Linked DNA regions of Homo sapiens: region 1 is linked to region 2. Evidence: fine-mapped QTL for protein levels in blood plasma. A gene starts in region 2. The other region holds a variant in brackets. All regions are shown on one strand. Distances are between the middles of the regions.

Region 1 (14,334 bases), 22 kb before region 2:
ACCTTGAGGTACTGGTACAGGCAGATGGACATCCAGTTGGACAGCATCCTCTCCACCACAGTCTCAGACCTGGGGGTGCAGGGAGGCCTTGTACCGAGTGACCCCGTAGTATTCCTGAGGCCCAACTGACTCCTCCAAGCACCCGGCCACCCTTGCGCCAGCCTCGCCCCTGTCCAGCCTGGGTGTGGCCTGCAGCGAGGACTACCTGGTGGCAGCTCCAGCCCTTGTGGGAAGTGTGCCACCTTCCTTCTGTTCTGCAGAGGGCTGACACTGTGACCAGCTGAAACCGCTGGACAGGAAGGGCTAGAGTCCGGCTTTGAGTTTGTGGCCGGGGACACCACCCCTAGACCGCCCCCCACCACCAGCGCTGGCTGGCACCTGCCGGCTCCTGGGGGCCCAACAGGCCGCTGTGCCACCCGCCACCAGCCCCAGAGCCCCTGCGGCCGCCCCGCCCGTGGCCCCGCTCGTGGCCCCGCCCATGTGCACCTGCGCAGCATCAGCTTGGGGTTCTTGGCCACCACGTACTGCTCCAGGAGCTCCAGGAAGAGCGTGTGCATGATGTCCGTGTAGTACTCCAGTTTCCCGTGCAGCGCCACCGTCAGCAGGGACGCGAAGTAGACCTTGGCGCGGGCCGAGAACTCCCGCTGGTTCTCCAGGGTGTGGATGAACTGTAGGGGCCGGCGGTCAAAGCCTGCCCGGCGCCACCTGTGTGCCCTCCCGCCCGCCCGACGCCTGGCTCACATTGATGAGGAAAGACTTGCTGTTCAGCAGGTTGGAGAACTGGTAGAGGGCCTGCTCCACCACCGGCCGCCGCGGCTCAGGGATGTCCAGCTTGCCGGTGATCATCACGTCCTTGTCGCCGTCCTTGGAGGGCAGGAAGAAGACGCGGTCGGTGTAGGTCTTGTAGTCCAGCACGGGGATGCCGGCCTCGTGCACGTCGTTGGTCTGGTCCTCCATCTCGATCATCAGGTCTGGGGGGAGGCTGGCGTGAGACGTCCCTGGCCACGTGGGGCCCTGACCCCCACGCTACACACAGCATCCCCGCCCCAGGAGGCGCCCCAGCACCAGCCCCCAAGCGGTCCCTACCTGTGAATTCCTTCTTGCAGCGGTCCCGCACGCTCTCCTCCAGGCCCTCCAGCTGGGACTTGATCTTCTCATACTCTCGTTCGGCCTGCTGGCTCTTCCTCCTGCAAGGCACAGCGGGCCTCCTAGGTTCTGCCGGGGCTGGCCGCTCAGCTGCCCGGATGAGGAGGTGGATCTACACGCCTGCCTGTGCAGGGCGGCGGATGAGGCCAGAGGGGCCGAGGCGGGAGGGCCGAGGGCTCAGGGTGTTGGCACAGCCGGGGGGCGGGCTCACCAGTAGCAGTAGACAGACACCGCGATGACGACCACCATGGGCACGATGACCAGCGGCAAGATGAGGCTGAGCGGCACGTCGCTCACCCGTGTGTCGTACTCCACGCGGCCCAGCACCCACTCGCGAGAGCCGAACTTCACCTGTGTGGGGGGCCGGGTTCAGCGCGGTCCCGTGGGGGCACCCCCCGCCAGTCCCCGCTCACGCACAATGAACTCGGGCAGGTTGTGTGTGGTGTCTCGTTTCTGCCGCCGCTTGGGCGGGGGCTGCACCTCCGGGGGCTCACAGTACAGGTCGGTCTCCGTCAGCGTCTTCATGGTGCAGCGCTCGGCACCCACGAAGGCCTCGGCCTCCTGCAGCGTCATCGCCTTGTTCAGATTGGTGCCCTGGGGAGGCGGCAGTGGTCGGGGTGAGGAGGAGGGAACCAGGGACAGGTGGACCAGCTCTCAGCCCAGACCCGAGCAGGACCCAGACACCCGGGGCTGCACCGTCCTCACCCGGGCGTGGATGAGCTTGTTGACCTGCTTCTTGACGCCACCTGTGAAGTTCTCAAAGGTGGGGTCAGGCACGTACTCGAAGGCCCCGGCCTCTGTTCTGAGCAGGGCACGGTGCCCGTCCATCTCGATCAGCACCGTGAGGTTGTAGGCCTCTGGCTCCTCAGGCACAGCCGGGGACAGGAAGACGACCTTGGTGTCATTGTGGAACACGTAGTCTGTACCCACCACCTGCAGGCAAGTCCCAGCTGTCAGCCCCCGGGCGCAGACCCCGCCCTTCCTGGGCACGATCCCATGGGCCGGTGCCAGAGCTGAGCCCACGCCAGGACTGACCGTCATGGGCTGCAGGGATTCAGCCTCCCGCGGCGGCTGCCAGGACTGCAGGGGCTCCGCGATGACCACCATGGCAAACCTCTGGATCAGGCTGAAGCCCTGACCCGTGACGTTGATGCTGCGGCCACCACTGCGGAGGGCAGTGCCTTCGTGGGCTCGGCTGGCAGGGGTGGTCCCTGCAGCCTCCGCCCTCCCGTCCCCGCCCACCCTGGCCCTGACCACACGGGGCTTCCAGGTGCATGTGTGGGTCTCGGTGGGCAAAGGGGCAACGCGGTGGGACGTGCTGAGCACGAGACTGTGCCGCAAGTGGGCGGGGGGCACACGGGGCCTGGTGAGCGTGGAGCCTCTGGTGTGCCCATCTGGGTTTCTAGGAGGAAGTGGATCTGGAGTGCAGTGGGGTTTTCCGGAGGCCGCCTCCCGCTGCACAGACCAGCCCCACCACATTCCTTTCAGCACAGTCAGCCAAGGGCACTGAGGAGGCAGCTGGGTGTGGGGAGCAGAGGGGGGCGGGGGGACACCAGCCTCACCTGGCAAAGCTTCGTAGCGGCTCGAAGGCTCGCAGTACGGGGTTTTCGCGGTAGGTGAAGAAGATGCCGGGGTTGGGCACGGGGGACCCCCCGTAGGAGACCTCCAGAAGCATCTGGCCCCGTGTCGCCTGGGGGCCAGTGACACACTGGAGCTGCGCCCCAAACTTCGTCCTGGGGGAGGGAGGGTGCTGGTCTGCATCAACCCCTCCCCCGGGACCAGCCCCAGCCCGACCAGGCTGGCCCCGCCATCCCCTCAGGGCCACTCAGGTCTCAGTAAGTGCCCCCCTCCATACCCAGGGCCAGGGCCAACCAGACTCAGCAGCTGGCGGTGACACCCACACTTTACACGGGACGCCGTTGAGGGTCACCCGCACGTCCTCCTGGGAGCCCGTGTCCAGGTGGGTGCCGTGGATGGTCAGTGTGGTGCCGCCCGCCTGCGGTCCCTGCTGCGGCTCCACACTGAGAGGCTTGGGCTGCTGAAAGAGCCGCAGGGGCACTCGGGTGAGGACGGGGCACAGGACGCCCTCGGTCCTGGGCTGGATGGTAACTGTCGTGGGGAGGCGGCGGGCAGAGCCCCTCCTCCCGGTCCTCCCGGGTTCGGCAGGTCCCCGAGGCCGGGTGCTTACTTGGAAGGTGAACTGGACATTGGGAGGCGAACGGCCCAGTTTCCCGAAGACGTCCACCTCGACACCCCCCGTGAAAGGCGTCTCCGCAGCCTCGATCACACACACGATCCTGGCGGGCGACAGGCAGTGTGGCCCAGGCACTCCCCGACCCACCCCACACCCTGACACCCTCACCCCCTCAGCCTCCCCACCCACCCAGTCACCCGGAACCCCAGCGTGGGTACTGACCCAGCTGACAGGGCCCAGACCAGGGCCGTCCACTCACCGGGTGGACACGGAGTAACGTTCCGGCTGAAAGGAGCAGTTCCGGCCGGCCACAGAGATCCTCTGGATGTCCCCTGCTTGGACGCCCAAATTGGACCCCAGGATGGTGATGCGGATGCCCCCACCCAGGGGGCCCG[T/C]CTCAGGCTGGATCTGAAACCACAGAGCCGGGTGAGCAGGGAGGGGCTCATGCCAGGGACGAGGGAAGGTGTAGGCCAGGCTTCGAGGGGCTCACCCTGGTGATGACGGGCGGCGGGCACTCGGAGGTGGTGTTGCACAGGGCCTCATACACGCACCTGCTCTGGCCCCCGCACCACGCACACCTGTAGTCGGGGTTAGCGGCCCGGCACAGGCTGCAGTCGCTGCGGCCAAAGGAGCAGTTGTAGAGGGTCACTGCGGGGAGAGCTGCCGTCAGTGGTCACCCCGTGCCTGCCCGCCCCCGACCTGCTCCCCACTGCGCCCACCTGTCCCCCCACCCACCGCCTTGTGCCCACCCGTCCCCTGCCCGCCCCCCACTGCGCCCGTGGCCCCCACCATGGAGCTTGCTGTCGATATTCTTGCCGTAAGACTTGACGTAGAGGTGCAGGGGCAGCGTCTCGTTGGCATCGTGGGACAGCTGGGGGACACGCAGGGGCACACTGCACTTCCTGCCCCCACAGAGGGGCGTGGGGCGGGGGTCACAAGGGCAGCCTCCCTGTGGCCACCGGGTCCCTTCCCAGCCAAGGGCAGCAGGGGAGGCCTTCAGGTGTCGGAAGTTCGGGAACCCCATGGACGCTGCTCTGTGCCACTCTGTCCCCAGGGAGGCAGAGGGCAGAGGGGGCTTCCCCAGCAGCACAGGGCATGGCGAGCCCCTGGCTGGGCTCTGGTCCCTGGGGTCTCCCTGCTGCCCCTCCCCTCACAGTCCTGAAGGTGACCCCCCACCCCACCCGGGGCCCTGGGGTCCAGCAGCCGAGCCGGCCTGCCCTGGAGCCGTACCTTTGGGGTCCGAAAGGCGAAGGTCCCAGATTCCTGCATGGTCACCGGCTCCATGAACTTGAGCAAGTCACTGCCCACGTGCAGGGAGGAACCCTGCAGACCATGCCGTCAGGACCCTGGACAGGCGGCTGTGGCACCCTGGCCCTCCTCCCAGAACCCCTGCAGCCCCTCCTCTGTGCCTACAGTGTGGGAGCCCTCTCCTCACCCCACACATGCCCGCCCCTCAGATTACCATGCCAGCTGACCCCTCGGCCACTCCTGAGCCCAAACACCTGTGTCTGCAGAAGCCTCTGAACGTCCTCTGTGGGTTTCCCACGGCCACCTCCACCACTCATCCACACCTGAGAACATCGCCCGGCCCACCTGACATCGTGGCCCCCACAGCTCCCTCCTCAGGAGGTGGCACTGGCCCCTCAATCTCCACACGCCTGCCTCCTCCACTGCCTCTCTTCAGGCCCATCCAAAGGCCCCCGAGTGCTGCCTCCTGGCCTCTGTCCCCGATAAATCCTGTGCCCTCTACCTCATGTGGGGGCCCCGAGTCGGGGGGCACGGGTGGAGCTCAGGCTTCCCACACACCCATCAGCACTGGCCGGCACCCCTCCCTCCGTACCTTAGCCTGCCTGTCACCAACCGGCACCCCCTCCCTCCGCACCTGAGCCTGCCTGTCACCGGCCGGCACCCCTCCCTCCGCACCTGAGCCTGCCTGTCACCAACCGGCACCCCCTCCCTCCGCACCTGAGCCTGCCTGTCACCGGCCGGCACCCCTCCCTCCGCACCTGAGCCTGCCTGTCACCGGCCGGCACCCCTCCCTCCGCACCTGAGCCTGCCTGTCACCGGCCGGCACCCCCTCCCTCCGCACCTGAGCCTGCCTGTCACCAACCGGCACCCCCTCCCTCCGTACCTGAGCCTGCCTGTCACCGGCCGGCACCCCTCCCTCCGCACCTGAGCCTGCCTGTCACCGGCCGGCACCCCTCCCTCCGCACCTGAGCCTGCCTGTCACAGCCGGCACCCCTCCCTCCGCACCTGAGCCTGCCTGTCACCGGCCGGCACCCCTCCCTCCGCACCTGAGCCTGCCTGTCACAGCCGGCACCCCTCCCTCCGCACCTGAGCCTGCCTGTCACCGGCCGGCACCCCTCCCTCCGTACCTGAGCCTGCCTGTCACCGGCCGGCACCCCTCCCTCCGCACCTGAGCCTGCCTGTCACCAGCCGGCACCCCTCCCTCCGCACCTTCACGGTGTCCAGGTTCTTGCCCTGGAAGTTCACATCTGTCTCGTGGTTCATGGGGATCACCAGGGGGCTGGGTCCCAGGAACTGGGGACAGCTGTCCTCCTGGGAGAGTAAGGCTGGTCAGGTGCTGCCTGGGCACAGCGGAGCAGCCATGCCCTGAACAGTCCCCTGAGGCCCCGAGGCCCCTCACCATGTGGGCACGGACGATGCCGTCCTCAGGGTTGGGCGAAGCCTCCCGGCACTCGTGGTAGCGCAGGTCCCACTGGCAGGTCCAGCGGTTGCTCACGCAGGAGATGCACCTGCATCCAGAGGGGATCGTGAGCAGGGCTGGGGTGGACGGGCAGGGTGGGGTCGATGGGCACAAGACACTCACGGCAGGTTCTCCTCCAGGCTCATGGCCTGGCGGCAGTCGTAGAAGGGGTACTGGTAGGACGTGAGGAAGATGTTGCCTCGTCTAAGGAGGAGCTGGATGGTCACGGCCACGTGGTCTGCAGACAGCAGAGGGGGAGGTGTCAAGGTGGCGGCCGCAGGGCCGAGGGCCAGGCTGGGCCTCCCCTGGGGCTGACTCCTGGGGCCAAGGTGGAGACCCCTGGTCTTCAGGGGGCCCTGCCAGGACGCCCCGCATTCATGTTGGGCGGGGCCTGCCACCTGCTATCAGATCTCGGGTGGGGCTGCCAGGACGCCCGTTCACGCTGGGCTGGACCTGCCACCTGCTATCAGATCTTGGTTCGGGTGTCGGGCGCAGCACCGGGCTTGCCTTTCTCCCCCGGGTCCAGGTTGCTTTCATACCCTCTGTTCCCGCAGGCACTGAGGGCAGCGGCTCCTTGGAGTCTGAGTGGGACCTGCCAGGTCCCTGCCCACGTCACTGCGTGGCCCCACTGCCCCCAAAACTCAGGGGACATGGGCGCGACGCCTGCCCTGGCCCACATGCGAGGCCCTGCAGCCTCTGGGAACGGCCCTGCTCTCTGAAGCTGGACATGGCAGGAAGGGGTGAGGGGCGTCTGCCGAGACGACGGGGCCTGGCGCCTGGCACCCACATGCCGCTCCGGACGTGATGAGGGAGCAGGCTGAAGACAAGTCACCTTTGCTACAGGCCTGGGGGGCGTGGCTGCGGACAGCCCAAGAAGCCAGAACCTCCCCAACAGGCACAGCAACCCCACCACAGGCTTCATTCAGGCTGGGCCCCCGGAGCAGCCGCGGAGTGTGCCTGTGCAGAGCCTGCACCCAGGGGCCAGCAGAGGCGAGAGCCCGTGTGCACAGGGCCCCGTGCGACCGAGAAGGGCCACCCGGGGGCTCGGGAAGGGGCCTCACCCTGGCCTGGCGGTGTGACGGGGATGCTGCTTGGGGAGTTGCAGATGACGGCCTCGCCCTCCACGCGGGCGGGGTGTGGCGGCGACTCCCCAAAAAGGCACAGCAACTCGTCCTCCTCGCTCAGGGCAGGGAGGGGGCTGACGGTCAGCTGCACCTGAGGGAGGGGCCGTGCCGCTCACACTGGGAACCCCGAGTCCTGTCAGCCCACCTGCCGGTGACCCGACCTCCCTGCGTGTGTGGGCGCACGTCCCAGTGGAGCCTCCAGAACCCGACTCCACGTCTTCCAATACAGGCCTCTCTGTGGTCACCCCAGCAACTCCTGGGACAGGGCCTGAGTCCACCCTGGATATGGACAAGCCCCACCCCTGCCCGCCCAGGTCATAGGGGTCCAGGGGACCAATGGAGGGCGGGCTCCATCCCTAAGGCTCGGTGCCCAGAGCCCAGGCGGGGGAGATGTGGAGCCCTCCCCTGCCTGTCCCAACAGCTCCCAGCATGGGGGAGCCCCCACCTGGCCCGGCCTGGGGCCCAGGACCCCCACCCCAGACCCACCACGCACCTCCCCCTGGGCCCGCCGGCTCATGTTCTGTGGCTGGGCGCTGGTGACGGCCACGCAGGACTTGCTTCGGCTCCACAGCCAGTGGCTGGCCTCCTCGGCCCGCGGACACTCGGCCTTCCGGGTGCATCTGCAGGCGCAGGGGGCGGCCTCAGCCCAGGGTGGAGTCTTGTTCTCCCGGGACAGGACAGTGCGATGTGCCCCCCGACCCAGGCCACGACCTTCCGGGATCCCAGAGGCAGGCCGTGTCCCCGAGCCACCCCAGGCACTCACCGTCCCTCGACGACGCACCAGCCGCAGTAGGGGTCCTGGGAGTCGCGGCACTGGGTGCAGGTCGGGTAGCTCAGGCACTCCTGCACCGGCAGCCGGAACACCTAGGGCAGCGGGGCCGTGAGTGGGACCACAGCAGAGGCCGCACGGGCCTTCCGCAGACCCCAGATGTCCCCAGACCGCCAGCTTGACCCAGCTCTGTCCCGGGGCCTCGGGAGCCTCAGACACCTCAGGCTTGATATTAAACAGTTCTGGCTCTGGGTGGCCATGCCTGGCCCAGGATCCCGATGGGAGCCCAGGGAAGCCTGGAGGTCTTGGCTATGGTGTCTCCCGGGGCAGCTCCTGTCCTCTACACTGGCTCCCTCCGAGGGGTGCTCCTAGGGCTGGCCTGAGGGTCTCTGGCACTAACCCCCCACAAGCTTGGGGCCCAGGCCCATGTTCTCCACTGACTGAGCTCACATGGGCTGTGCAGGGACCCCGTCTTCCCATCCACCCTCAGCAACACGCCTCAGACACCAACCCAGGTCCCTTCCATCAGGACAGGGCAGAGGCGGGGCCAGAGGGAGAGACATGGTTGAGACCACAAAGGACAAACAGAAGGAGCGGCAGAGACGGGGCAGTGCTAGAGAGACACAGGATGGAGGCACTGCCCGGGACCCACCCAGCCACCCCTCATCCAGACCAAGGAGAAGGGCCCAGCTCTGCAGCACCCCATCCTCCTCTGGCCCCCAGGCCTGTCCTAAGGGCCTGGGATGCAATGACCGGGCACACTTGGCCTAGAGTGCTCTCCGGGGCTGCGTCTGGCTCACCTTGTCCTGGGTCATGGCGTACAGGCTGCCCAGGTCTCCAGACAGTACCAGGTCGCGCTTGACTCTCTTGTTTATCTCCACAAGGATAGAGTCGTACTCTGAGGAGGTGCCATCTGGGGTGAGGTACACCTGTGTGCGCGAGGGCAGGCCGGTGAGGGTACGGGCCTTGTGCACAGACGGGCCCTCCAGAGCCTCCCCGCCCCAGCCTGGGCCAAACCTTGAGGATCCGGCCATCAGAGGTGCCCAGAAAAGCAACAGTGTGGTTGTTCTCGGCGGCGACCGTCACGGCCGTGAGGTTCAGGCCTCCACGCTGCAGCACGGCTGTGCCTCTGAGCCCGTCGCGGCTGCCCAGCGGGTAGGGCAGGTGCTCCGAGCCACATGGGAAGCTCTTGCTGGAGCCCTGCGGACCACAGCGTGTCAATGGCAGGCAGACCCCCTGTCCTGAAGGGCCCTCTCCACTCGCGCTCCAAGACTCGGGACAGGCCCTTCCCTTCCCTCCGGCACACGTCCTACACACGTCCCCGAGAACAGAACCCACATGGCAGGGAGCCCCACCGTGCTCACTGTTGTGTTCCCCAGTGCCCGACACAGGCCTGGGACTGGCGCCAGCGTGAATGGCATTGAGAGATGCGGCACCCACCCACGCAAGCGCCCAGGCTGGCGAGAGCCACGGCCACACTGCTCACGTGCACCCTCCCCAGCAGGCTGGGACACGCAAACCCACGAACGGACGCCTGCAGTCCGGGCCCTGCGAGAACACACTGAGGCCCATACCGGCGCGTGGCCGCCGCACTGGATATCGCCGTGGAAGGGCTTGTAGAAGATGTCACGGGCCTCCCGGGTGCCTGTGTAACAGGCGTTGCGGTTGGCCTCCATCTTGGCGTGCACCTTGTCCAGCGGGAACAGGCAGAGGCCCGCACCGGGCCCCCCACTGCTCCGGCTGTCTCTGCTGAAGACAGCATATAGCACCCTGCCAGAGCCAGGCGCAGCCACGGAGGCGGCCAGGCAGGTGCCAAAGGCAGCGGCGTGGATGTCGGGGTCCCGGCACTGCAGGTCCATCTCCAGGTAGGAGTAGTAGTTGGGGTCTTCTCTGCACATGCGTGCCAGCAGCGTGCGGTTCCGGGCCGGGTGCTTGTCCTGCTGGTTGAAGACAAAGAAGACGTAGGGGCCGTCCTCGAAGGCCGCCACGAACTGCTGTGTGTTGGTGGACAGGTAGCCGGCCTTGTAGGTGGCGTGGTCCGTGTAGGCTTCAAAGGCCTCCCTGCTGTCAGTCCGGTCCAACAGCCGAGTGCTCACGATGATGCCGTTGTCGTGTGGCCCATTGCCTTTGCCCACAAACAGCACGCGGTCACCACCAGGACCCGTGGAGCTCACCAGCCCCACTGTGGCCACGCCCTCATCATTGCTGGCCACGAAAGACTTCTCCCCGCTGCCGTCCTCGTAGAACAGGCGGAGGGAGATGTTGCTCAGGGCGCGCAGAGCGCAGATGCCCTTGAAGAGGCTGCCGCACTCCACCAGGCGCTTCCTGGGAGGGTCGAGCAGCAGCAGCTGGTTGACATTGTCAGTCATCTCAGCCTCATGGCACTGGCTGGCCTCGATGGGCGGCGTGCACTTCTTGTTGTCCAGGGCCGGGCCCGTGGCCACCTGCTGCTCCAGCTGCAGCTTCGCATCCAGCTGGTAGAGGGCATTCACCGCCCCCAGGTACACCACGCCTGAGGCCTCATCCACAGCCAGGTGGTTCAGCTCTTTCTCGCTGCGGAAGAAGTCCAGCTTGCGGGGCCTCAGGCTGGCACCTGCGCCCAGCAGGCCCAGCAGGGTCAGGGCCCAGAGCTGCAGTGCCATTGCCCCCCGCACCCTGTGGGAAGAGAGAAGGGTCAGGGGAGCCCCGACCCAGAGGACCCCCGATCAAATCCCTCTCCAGTCCCTGCCCCAAACGTCAGAACATGGGAGAGAGGGTCACGCCACTCCACGAACTGAGGAACCTGGAGCTCCGCCCCTTCCTGCTTCACACCCCCGCCATCCTCGAGGTCTCGCCGGAGACCACTTCTCAGCCCTCCTCAAGTCCACCCTGACTGACCACTGGGGCCAAGGCACTGCCATCGCCTGCTACAGGATCCCTCCCGGAGGTGCTGAAAACACCGGCAGGCCTATCCCCGAGGCAAGGAGTTGACGCCCCCAGAAAGGCTCTCAAGTGCTCACATTCATGCCCCCTGACCTGTGACCCCAAGGAGCTCCAGGTGGTCGGGACGCACCGGCCCCAGCGCACAGGCTCAGGCTGACAGACAGACCCCTGGACGTTGGAACAGGTGGCTCACCCATGGGGCAGAGGTGAAGGACACGGGAAACCAGAGGCTCAGGTGAGAGCGAGGGGTGCCCTGTGCATAGCCCAGCAAGTGCACATGCTGTTTACAACTGCCCGCCAGAGCCCCCAGGCGGCCTGAGCCTCCCTGACCACCTCCAGGCCCCCTGCCCTGGTGAAACAGTGGAAGCCAGCAATCACCCACAGCTCCTCGCTCGGCCCATGTCACGCCCAGGGCACAGCCTCTGATGTGCGCACAGCGGAGGCAACAAGGGGACCTGGGGAGCCATGAGCAACTCCAAATCCACCAGGTCTCAGAGGCAGAGGCCCCCACATCTGCAGCCTGGACAGGCTGTGTCCACATGCGTGTGTGTAACTGAGCACGTCTCGGTGTGGGGTCTGTGCCTGGGTCCGGGTGGATGAGGGGGATGTGTGGTGTGATGGGTGAGCTGCTGAGGACCAGGCTGAGCTGAGGGTCTCCCAATAGGAGGAAGATCCAAGGCCCCACAGGTGGACCCAGGACATGCGTGGTCCTCTCTCTTTCCCTCCCTACCAGACTCAACTGCATCTTGGGGGCTCAGACACAAGTGGCAGAGACAGGGCCCTTCTGCCTCTGAGCTCTTCCTCAGGGTGGTCCGTCCCTCTCACGCTAGGGACCCTGCTCCATCCTGGCCAGTGATCCCTACATCAGCCTCCCCTGCCAGTGCCCCCTCCTCATGCTCACAACCACCCCCACTCCTGGGCCCACCATCATCTTCCCTGAGTGCACCAGTACGGGGGGCTCCCAGGTGTCCAGGGCAGCCCTGCCATGGCAGGTGCCAAGGGGGTCCAGACTCGATGGCAGAGGGTTACGAGGGATGGAGGCCCTGGCCTCCCCCACCTCCCTGTGCAGGCCCACCCCGTGCCTCCAGAGGGACTGCCACATCCTCTCAGGCCACCACAAGTGTCACCTCCCTGCATATGTCTCATCCCCTCGAAACGCAATCCGCTTTCTCACCACATATTTGAAAGTTTTGCCAGGCCCGGTGGCTCACGCCTGTAATCCCAGCACCTTGGGAGGCCGAGGCGGGCGGATCACGAGGTCAGGAGTTTGAGACCAGCCTGGCCAACATGGTGAAACCCCGTCTCTACTAAAAACACAAAAAAATTAGCCAAGCGTGCTGGCACCCGCCTGTAGTCTCAGCTACTCCAGAGGCTGAGGCAGGAGAATCGCGTGAACCTGGGAGGCGGAGGTTGCAGCGAGCCAAGATTGCACCACTGCACTCCAGCCTGGGTGACAGAGCGAGACTCTGTCTCAAAAAAAAAAAAAAAAAAAAAAAGTTTTAAGTGTACAAAGAACAAGCCACAAAATGCAAATGTTTCCACATCCCTGTGTCTCTGACGGCCAGGCTGACCACGACAGCCTGTGACCCATTTCTCAGGTGAAGAAACTGAGGCACGGAGCAGAATTTACCCAAGGCCACACCGCGGGCATGGGTGGGGCTGGGATTCTGACATGCAGTGGGAGCAGCTTGGCCTCTGACCACTGTGTTTCTCCACCCTTTTGACAACCCCCCAAACCCCCTGGCCTCTGTCCTCCCAGGAGGGCAGGGGAGCCCGCTCTGCTGCTCCGTAGCCAGGGGAAGTGTTTCTCCCGAGCCTCGGCTTTGGGTGAAGCTGCATTTACTGGCACAGCCGCCCTCCACCTGCCCGTGGCAACCCCCCGTTCTGATTGCCCGCACGCTTCCTGAAATCTCTTGAGGTGTAACCAAGACGCAACCGACCGACAACATCTGAGCCACCCCAGGGCCCGCATGAGTGAGACAGCGCTGCACTGGCCTTCCTGCTCCCTGGGAGTGCACCCATTAGACAGGCAGCTCCTGCCCGGCACAGAACTCCCTCCCTGCACTGGGGGTTCAGTGCTCAGCTGCTGCCCAACCCCTGGAGCCCCCCAGGTGCCCACGAGCACAGCAGCCGCTGGGAGAGGTGACCACCCACAGGCTAGGGAGTTCCTGGCCGACTGGTGGCAGAGAGGCTGGGTAGGGCCATGGGACCCCAGGCTTCACCAGGATAGGGGTGATCAGCCAGGAAAAGATGCTGGCTTTAGTGAGAGACAGGAAGATTCTACAAGCCCACGGGAACCTCTGGGCATGATCCTGGTGGAGGGGGTTCTATGCCCAGCTCAGCCAGGGTCCCCCGCTGTGGCTCAGTGGCCTGTCCAGGGGAGAGGAGAGGAGGGCACAGGAGTCCCAGGCCTCCAGGAGAGGCCCGTAGGCTACAGCCACAGCCCATGGCCCTACCAGGGAGGAGCAGCGCCTGCCCGAAGGCTCCCCAACCCCCGCCGCGCCCCTCCCCTACCCACAGCCACCCGGGGGCAGGTCCCGCAGGCCCCCGCCTTCTAAGTGCACCCAGTGGCGCCAGCGGGGGCAGGCAACGTCCAGGCCCCTCGGCCCTGCGCCCAGGCCTGCTGCCCTCCCCTCCCAGCCCCGCTCACCCGGCCCAGCTCGCTCACCCGGCCCAGCTCGGTGGCAGTGGCAGAGGCAGCCTCAGCCAGGCGCAGCTCCCGGGAATGAATGGAATGCGCCCGCAGCTGGGAGGGGAATGCGGGGGCAGCGCGGGGGCGGGGCCCACGGTCCCCTCGGATCTGGCCCGGACCGTGGTGGGGCAGCCTGGGGAACCCTGCGGCGCCCCTAGCCCCAGGAAAAGCAATGGCTCTGGGCCCCCACAAGCCACCCCTCAGCCGTCCCCCAGCTTCCACCCAGGGAAGACACTCACCCACCCGCCAGGGCTGTAGGGGCCCCGGTACAGGAAGAAGGCTCTCCTGTCCCTGCCGGGGGCTGGCACACCCTAAGTGCTCAATAAACACCACCGTGTGCCACCAGGGAAAGCCTGACTCCCAGGGTCCTACAGGCCCAGGCTTTTCAGGGTGGCAGGCGCGGCTGGGGTGACACCCTACAGGTGGCAGCTGCCTTCTGGTTCCTGGACAAACAAGGCCTCAGGTGACCTGCCTGCCCAGGCCCAGGAGCAAAGGGCAACCCACCGGACCAGCAGCAAAGCTCCGGCGGCGCAGGAGGCGCCAGGCACAGCCAGCTACGCTTCCTGCTGCCTGTGTTCCTGGAACAGGAGGGAGGGCGGGCAGCAGGCACTTCCTGTTTTGAAGCCCTCCTGGGACCCCCACTTACGGGGCTGGCGGGGATTTCCTCGGGCCCTCTGGTGCCTTCCTCCTGGCTGAAGCTCGGAGGGGCACTTTCAAGAGGCCACAGCAACTCCGGCTGCTGCTGGGCAGGGAAGCTCCCCACTTCCATCCAGACCAGGC
Region 2 (8,561 bases):
AGGCAGGGGTCCTTACAATCCAGGGGTATGGGAAGAAGCAGGCCCTGTGTCAAGGGATGTGAAACCACGGAAAGGAAGAAGGTGGAGGAACCTCGACCAGAAAGAGGGAAGCTAGGGCAGCTGCCTCCCCGGGGCCCCAGAGCCTGAGCACCCCCCACCAGCCAAGGCTCTGACCCACCCTCCCCATCGTGTAATTAGTCAGAGACCCAGCCCCACCCCACCCACAGCCCCACCCCAAACACAAACAGCCACTACCCCTGAGGGAGGGAGGGGCTGTGGCCAGTCCCAGCCCTACTGAATCTCCCACCCCCAGAGAACCTGGATCTGCCTCAGAGAAGGGAGGTCAAGGCTGGGGGGCCACTTGCTGGCCACTGGGTGAATTCTGAGCAGCTCACCACCTCATCCCCAAACCGTGTCCAAGGCAGGCTCTGGGCACAAGAGGTTCCCCGCCAACTTCCAAGGAGGGCGGCCAGGCTGCAGCCAGAGGGACGGAGGCATGAGCTGAGTGAGAACTCCCAGCTCAGGGGAAGGCAGCCCTCGTGGCAGAGGCCTGGCATCCAAGTGCCTGCCTAGCTCAGAGAAGGCACAATATGAGGGGCCGGAAGACACAGCCTCTCCCAGCCAGTGCACCCCTGCCCACGCCCGCGTCCCAGGGGGACCATCAGCTGTGGCTGGCACAGGGTGAGGCAGGGGGCAGGACACGGTGAGCACGGACGACGTCCTGGGATGGGAGGAGGACTGTGCCATATGGGCCCTCCCCACCACCTTCCAATCCAATCTCTTCTGCTCCACTTCCCTGGGCCGGGTCCAAGGCTCTGGGCTTTCTGCACTTGGGGCCAGCTGCCGGCTCCTCCTCCCCGATGTGGTCCCCATGCAGGCCGCCGGGCACACACCCCGGGCGCACACACAGCATGGACCCAGAGCGCCAGGTAGCCACAGCCCTGGCCACACAGCATCGCAGATGACTCCTCACATAGACCTATCTCTGGCCTCAGTCTCCCCACCTGCAGGATGGGCTCACAGGCGCCATATCCAGAGGGGGTCGTAGGCAAGGACTGGCTGTCGGAGGGGCTTGGAGGGAGGCTGGTCCGTTAGTCAGGAGCTGAATAGGGAGTCCGTTGGGGCAGGAGGGCCCCCTGAGGGAAACCCCAGTGCCCTCCCTAGCAGCCTAGCCTCGCTCCTGCCTGCTCCTCCCTGGCACGCACAGGTCACTGGCACAGGGTGTGTCCCTGAACTTGGGCCTGGAGGGTACCTCAGAGGCTCTTCAGACCACCATTGAGACTTCTCGGGGCGAGGGGGTCCCTGGGTGGGGCGAGGGGGTCCCTGGGTGGGCCCAGAGCTCCTCCTGTTCCATGGTCTCCCCCAGAGGGGCTTGGGCCCACTGCAGGCTCAGCAGGGCCTGCTGGGGCCAACCTTGGGGCTTTCTCCAACCCAAAGGTGACGCATCTTCTCCCCGCCCAGTCTGGGCAGCTGCAGTAGAAAGTGGCAGAGCTGCCCGGACTTGCCCGTCCTCCTCCTGGGGCCCTCAACCCACGTCCCGGAAGTGGATCCTTCTCCCACGCTGCAGCCTCCCGCTTCGGGTGACTGGACACGGCTGGATGATCCAAAATAATTCTTTCTTGGCAGGCAGCCGGTGGGGGAGGGGGACTCACATTCCAAACCCTTGTTTTTCTCAGTAACTTCCCTCCTCTACTGGGGCAAGGAACCCCTGGCCAGACCTCAGGCCTCCCAGACCCCCCGGGACAGAGGTGGGCCCCCCATAGGTACCGTGGGAGGACTCAGATGTGCCAGGCCCACCTGCTTGCTTCTCAGTCGGCTCTGGGGATTTCTATGCAACATGCAAAAAGCTGACTCGCCACAAACCTATGCCTGCTGGCCCTGCCCTCCGGGAGACCCTCACCTCTGGACAGGAAAGGGAGGGCTCCTCCCACCAGCTGTTCAGCTGTTCCGTGCCAGGGTCATCTGGGCATGGGGCAGGCTGAGAGCCCCCACTTCCCGGCAGCCTCGCTCTCCCACCCGCAAAGGGCTCCTGAGGAAGCTCAACTTTAAAGCCTCACAGGCTGCGCCGAACCTCCAAGCAAGGGCCGAAGTCAGACATTAAGTGGGGAGGGCGGGGGGGTCCAGGGAAGGTGGGGCACAGGGAGCCCTCCAGGCCGCCGGGATCTGCCGGGTTTGGGGCCCACCCTCACCCTCACCCTCACCCTCACCCTCACCCTCACCCTCACCCTCACCCCCTGTCCTGACTCTGCCACAGCCCACAGTGGGCAGACGGACCCCTTTCTTCCTTTCCCAGGGAGCTTCGGGAAGAGAAATCAAGGGCCTGGCAGGAAGCCCCAGGGCGTCCGGGCTCTGAGACCCCCAGATGACAGGGGGAGGCGGGCTCCCCAGATCTGCCGAATAGCCCGACCAGGGGCGCTGGCAGGGCAGGGGCTTCCTGCAGGAGCAGGGTGCGGAGGGGCAGGGTCAGCAGGGGACAGGCAGGGCTCGCGCCCCCGCTTCTGAGACTTTCTGTGTCTCGGGGTGTCCACCCAGACGCCACTCTGGGAACCGCGAGGAGGCCCAGGCAGTGGGGTCTCGCCAGGTGCGGGTGCTCTCCGCCCTGGTCCCCCCGCGCCAAGCAGGCCCCAGGGGGTGCGGGGACGGCCCCCGGGAGCTCGGGCAAATCCAGGCTCCTGTGCCGCTGAGCCTGGGGCCGGCCCGGAGCGCCCGCACCGCGAGACCATCTCCGCTCGGCGCACGGAGCTCGGCGGCTGAAGAGTGAGAGGCAGGCGCGGAGGAGGGATCCGACGCGGCTCCGGAGGGACGCGCAGCCCCCGCCGCCGGGCCCGTCCCCCGAGTCAACACCGGGAAGGGAGTGGGGCGGCAGCGGCCCGGGCCTCGCCGGATGGACCGACGGACGGGGCCCAGGCCCCGGGAGCCCTCCGCGGAGCCGCAGCCGCCGCAGGTCCCCGGGCCCCAGCGCGGCAGGCCCGGGCGGAGCGGCGCTGACGGCGAAGCCCCCCCCACGCCCAGCGAGACGTCCCCCGCAGCCCAGTCCCCCGAGCTCGGTACCTGCACGTCCGCCGCCAAGGCTCGATGGCGCCCGGGCCGCGCTCGGCGCTGCGCTCTGGCCCGCGCTGCTGCCATGGAGACGGGGCCTTTGTGTGGCCGAGGAGGGGCCGGAGCGCGCGGGAGCTGCCGGCCCCGCCCCCGACGAGGGAGAGGAGGGGAGGGCGGGGAGAACAGGAGAAGGGGGGAGAGGGAGAGGGAAAGCGGAGGGGGAGAAGGAGGGGGAGGGGGAGGGGGGAGAGGGGGAGGGGGGAGAGGGGGAGGGGGAAGAGGGGGAGGGGGAGAGGGGGAGGGGGAAGAGGGGGAGGGGGAGGGGAGGGGGAGCAGGAGCGGGGAGGAGAGGGCAGAAGAGAACCGGAGAGGAGGGGAGGGGACGGGAGGGGAGGGGCTGGGCCTGCGCTCCCCGCGCCCCCCACTTCTCCCCTGCCCAGCGGCCACAGCATTGTCTGGTAGGTTCAGGCACCCCAGTTCAGACCCAGGTTCAGCCAGGGCAGCACCCTGCCCACCATGCCGCCGTCCAGGAAGCACGAGCGCCCACAGAGGCCCCATGGCCTGAGCACCCCCACAGGAACCCCGCAGGTCTGAGGGGAGGCCATGGCTTGGTACCAGGGGAGGGCATTATGAGTGCACTCTCGCCTGGCCAGAGGAACGTGAGGGTCCCTGCCAGTCTTGAGATGTGTGGGCACCAGACTCTCACTCCCAGACTGGAAGCATACCAGTCGCTCCCCTGCGGCCTTCAGGGGTGGGGGCTGCTGGGCTTTGGCCCTTTCCCAGGGGTCTCAGGCCCTCAACCTCCCAGGGTAAACTGGGACCTGGAGATGGCCTCCCAGCACATCCCTGGCCTCCAGCAGCACCTTGGGATGCTGCACCCGGGACCCCACCTGGTCCTTCAGGGCCAGGAGGTGGGCGGGCCGAGACCTCTTTCTGGGGGTTCTGGTTTCTGGGACAGAGCTGGCCCCACTTCTGGCATCCCAGGTCCCAAGTCCTGGCCTCAGTGCTCCTAGTGTCCCCTGGGCTTGAGAAGAGGTGGTGAACCGTCTGCAGGGCCAGACCTTGGAGCACGCCTCCACTGCCCTCCCGGAACTGGATGTGCTGAGCAGGAGACAGAAGCATTCCCCAAGCTCTTGCCCCCACCCTGGGTCACCCCTCCCTGGGGCCCGCCTTCCACCCAGACCTGCCCCGTCCTTGCAGCTGGTCAGCTTCCTCCTGTCCCCAGCCAGGCATCCCCTCCTCCTCTGCTTCCCCCACCCGGGATCCGCCCCGCCACATCCTGACAAACTCCCCCAGCCTGACTTAGTTCTTTCAGTCTCTGCCTTCTCCCACCCTCAAGCAGCCAGGCCTTGTTCCTGTCCAAAATCTTCCCTTGGGCCTTGAACCACAATCCACATCACGGCAACCCTACCCTTCACTGCAGAGGACCCCAAAATTACCAGGTTCTGACAAGGTTGCCAACTTTTTATCAAAAAAGGAAAAGACAAGGTCCAGTCACAAAAGGACATTTTAATACCAAAACTGTGGGAAGGCCACTGTTCTAGACTAAAAGGGAGTCTTTAAATAGCCAGCAGGAAGCTTGAGGGTGAGCAGCTGTCCTTCCTGTCCCTGAGCAGGCCCCCTGTGTGCACCCTCAGCCCCGAGCCCCACTCCAGACCTGCTCCCAGCCCTTCCCACCCTCTAGGTTCTGTGGTCCCTGTCCTTCGGGAGGCCTGTGACCACAGCAGTCCTCACCCTCGCCAACTAAGTTCTGCCCAGCAAGCCCTCTTGCCTGCGGGGGCTGGCACTCTGGCCAGGGGTAGAGCTGTCTGGACCTTCCTGCCTCTTCACTGACTGCCCCTGGCCTGGAGTGCGTGGGGCGGGGAGGGCCATGGCCTAGCCCTGGACAGAGGCTCAGCCAACTCAGAGCGGCCCTGACACTGGGGGGGCCACAAGAGGCATCCGGACAGATGGAGCTGGCAGGTCTCCACGCCCAGCCCCCACCCATCCACCCCAGGCCACATTCCACCCCAGGCCTCTTCTGCACAGGTGGGGACAGGCCCTGAGGAAGAGGGGCTGGGACACTACCCCCCACCTTAGCCTTAGCTTCTGCCCAGGGCAATGCTGGCCACCCAGCCCGGTTCCCCCCTCAAGTTCCCCCTTCACACGCCACTATGTGGCCTCACCAGAGCCCTCCAGGGAAATCTGCTTGTGCATTTCTGGATACACAGTGGCCAGGGTCCCTGGGGGCTCCTCAGAGACCAGCCTGAAGCCCCTCCCCTGCAGCCATGTGGGTCTGCAGCCCTCTGTGCTGTGCGGCAGCCCTCAGAAAGCCAAGTGAGGCGAGACTGTGCTGTGGGGAAGCACATGCTGCCACGGTCCTTGGGGTGCGCTCCCCAAAGTGGGGTCACAGTTGTGAGAGAGGTGGGTTGTCTTCCCAAGCTGCCCCGACACCTTGAAGTGGTGGTCCTCAGGGGGCTGGTCACCAGCATAAGGCTTTTGCAGAGGGCCCTGGTGGAGGGCAGCTGATGGCAGGGCCTGTACTGGCCCCCCAGGCCCCATCTTATGGAGGTCAGCATTCAAGCTGCCCACACAAGAGGTGCCAGCATCTCTGCAGACCCTCTAGAGACCAAGCCCTCAGTGGGGAGGCTGGTCCCCCTGTGCTACAGTCAGGAGGCCCAAGCTGCATTTGGGGCCAGGACCTTTCTCACCCTCGGGTCCCCGGCTTGTCCCTGCCACAGAACAGGTTTGCCACCTCGGCCTCTATGTGTTCTGTTTCATGTGGTCACATCCTTGGACCCTGCACCAGACATCTGGGGCTTAACAGCTCCCCTTGGTCACCCTCCCGGCTGCCTCCGCGTCTTGTCTGTAGAATGGGAACAGGGACAGGCTGTCCTGGGCTGCAGTTGGGCTGGACAAGTTGACATGTACCAAGTTCTGAGAACTACCTGGCGCCCGGACACCTGACCCCGCTGTCCTTGTGGCTCAGTCACATCCTGCACTGAAGTGGCTGGCAGTGCTCGCTCTCCACCACCTGGCTGGAGGTCTGAGAGCACCAATGAGAACACAAACAGTACGTTGCGCTGAATGAAGGCTACATTCCTCGGACTGAATGGGGGCCTCAGAAGAAAAAGAAAAGTCCCGGCCGGGCGCGGTGGCTCATGCCTGTAATCCTAGCACGTTGGGAGGCCGAGGCGGGCGGATTACGAGGTCAGGAGATCGAGACCATCCTGGCTAACATGGTGAAACCCTGTCTCTACTACAAATACAAAAAATTAACCAAGCGCAGTGGTGGGTGCCTGTAGTCCCAGCTACTCGGGAGGCTGAGGCAGGAGAATGGCGTGAACCCGGGAGGCAGAGCTTGCAGTGAGCCGAGATCATGCCACTGCACTCCAGCCTGGGCAACAGAGCGAGACTCCATTTCAAAAAGAAAAAAAAAGAAAAAGTCCCTCCCCCAGCCCTGTGTCCCCTGGCCAGCACCCGCCCGGCCTCACAGGGTACAAAGCCCAGTCTCCATGAGTGGCCCTCCCAGCACCCTGTCGGGCATCTGCATGGCTGGCTCGCTCAGATGAGGAGTCTGAGGGTCTGAGTGGTCAGGGGACCTGCTCCCGGGCACACAGTGCGTGATGCTGAGCAGGGCTTGGCTGTCCGGAGCCCTGACAGTACCGTCACTGTGTGCTGTGCAGGGTCAACACCGTACCTCACCGGCCTCAGTGCCTGCAGGTGTCACGGGGGGAGCATACAACCCAGAGGTGGCTCTTAGGGACGTTCACCCCTTACCAAGGAAAGGGAGACATGCAGGCTCCAGCCAGAGGCAGGGTCAGGCCGAAGTCCAGAGCCCCTTGGGCTGCATGTGGGGGATGGACGGACACACTTGGACAACAGGAGCCCTGTCCACCTCCCAGAAGGGACGCACGGAGCTGGTGCCTGGTGGGGGCTCCAGGACTGGGAGCCAGGAAGGTGCTGTGGCTCTCCGAGAGCCAGGCTGAGCCAGCTCTCCTAGCAGAGGTGCTGGGCTGCACACAGCCCCCTGCCCAACCCCTACCTCCCAACAAACCACAGCCCCAAGCAGGTGGGTGTCCAGAGGAGCACCAGGGGTGGTGAGCAGAGCTCTTCACACTGCAAAGTGGTCTCTCCCTTTCTCAAGTTGATGACTATATGCAAAATAGCCTCCCATCCCCAGACAAGACGGGGGCTGTGTCAGGAGAGGGTCCCTCCTGTCCTGGGCAGCCTGTTGGGCTGAGGGAAGCATCACACACAGCGCAGGGGGGTCGGGGGCCAACAGATGGGCACCGGGAGGGGCAGACGGTAGACGCACCCACATCAGCAAGGGCTCCCAGCCTGTCCCCGCCCCCGTCCCAGCCTAAGGTCTGCAGAGGCCAGGTGGGACCCAGGAGGAGGCAAGGCTCTGCCTGCGAGGAACCCCTATGGTCAAGGCCATGCTGTGGTTCCAAATGTCGCCTTTACTGCTGAGACAATGGTGGTGCAGGAAGGGGAGCCTGCAGTCTGGGCGGGGGGCCAAGGAAGGGGAGCGTGTGCTTGGCCCAGTGCCGCCACCACTGGGGAGTGGGAGGCTCAGGCAGACCTAGGGCCCTGGGACCGTGGCCCTTGGCTTTGTTCTAGGGAGGGCACAAGACAGCCTGCAGGTCTTTGGGCAGGGAGCCGATGACCGTCTCGATGTACAGCTGTGCCCGCTGCAGCGTAGCCTCCTTCACAGGGAGCTGGTGGCCCTGAGCCCGCACCTGGAGGGGCAGCCATGGTCAGGGCAGGCGCAGCTCCGTGCCAGGCTGGTGGCGCTGGGACAAGGCTGGGAGGCATCTTACCAGCTTCTCACGAAGTTTCAGGACCAGGTCCACGACCTCCACCTCGGACTTGTCTTTCATCCAGGTCTCGATGTTCTGCAGGGCAAGACGGGGTCTACTGTCAGCAAGGCCCCTCACTGCCCTGGGCCTGTGCCCACCCCCACCATGTTCTGGCCCTCCCCAACCCCCAGCCTCTCTCACCGCCTCACAGATAGCCTCCAGGTGCAGGGCCTCCAGCTTCAGGGCCATCTCCTTGTGCCGCTGCCGGTACCAGCCATCAAAATGGGGGGACTTGAAAAACCGCCTGTGGGGATTAACAGGCGGGGGGCCATGGGGCTGACCCTGGGGATTGACAGGCGGGGGCCATGGGGCTGACCCTGGGGATTGACAGGCGGGGGGCCATGGGGCTGACCCTGGGGATTGACAGGCGGGGGGCCATGGGGCTGACCCTGGGGATTGACAGGCGGGGGGCCATGGGGCTGACCCTGGGGATTGACAGGCGGGGGGCCATGGGGCTGACCCTGGGGATTGACAGGCGGGGGGCCATGGGGCTGACCCTGGGGATTGACAGGCGGGGGGCCATGGGGATGACCCTGGGGATTGACAGGCGGGGGGCCATGGGGCTGACCCTGTGGACCAAGGAGGGCTCAAGCTGCCTGCACCTGCAGTCCACGCACCTGTAGAGACCCAGCCAGTCGCCCTTGAGGATGCAGGTGAGCTGGGGCCCAGCATGCTCCAGGC

The links. PIP is the chance, under the fine-mapping model, that this variant and not a neighbour inherited with it causes the effect. Protein levels are from the aptamer-based SomaScan assay of Sun 2018.
Region 1: its variant is fine-mapped to the plasma level of the PLXNB2 protein (Sun 2018, PIP 0.95). The variant lies in the coding sequence of PLXNB2. If it changes the protein, the assay may bind it differently, which can mimic a change of level.

What each region holds. Positions count from the first base shown.
Region 1 is chr22:50,280,003-50,294,336 of GRCh38, forward strand. It overlaps PLXNB2 (plexin B2), which reads right to left. Exons shown (of 37, transcript NM_012401.4): 3 at 9,515-10,595; 4 at 8,958-9,140; 5 at 8,741-8,869; 6 at 7,935-8,035; 7 at 7,665-7,791; 8 at 7,109-7,262; 9 at 6,171-6,285; 10 at 5,988-6,096; 11 at 5,798-5,899; 12 at 4,571-4,663; 13 at 4,130-4,211; 14 at 3,831-3,988; 15 at 3,600-3,748; 16 at 3,335-3,443; 10 more. The coding sequence starts at 10,582. Among named protein-coding and RNA genes, the nearest start is that of MAPK11, 17 kb to the left of the region's middle. RefSeq lists enhancers at 2,115-3,314, 12,671-12,720 and a silencer at 12,491-12,550. The variant T/C (reference allele first, on the strand shown) is at 3,736.
Region 2 is chr22:50,304,502-50,313,062 of GRCh38, forward strand. PLXNB2 (plexin B2) reads right to left here and starts at 3,145. Exons shown (of 37, transcript NM_012401.4): 1 at 3,052-3,145. DENND6B (DENN domain containing 6B) reads right to left here. Exons shown (of 20, transcript NM_001001794.4): 17 at 8,498-8,561; 18 at 8,022-8,124; 19 at 7,842-7,916; 20 at 4,529-7,760. The coding sequence ends at 7,638. RefSeq lists enhancers at 799-1,998, 1,388-1,757 and silencers at 2,306-2,456, 2,977-3,046, 3,057-3,256, 3,417-3,466, 4,167-4,216.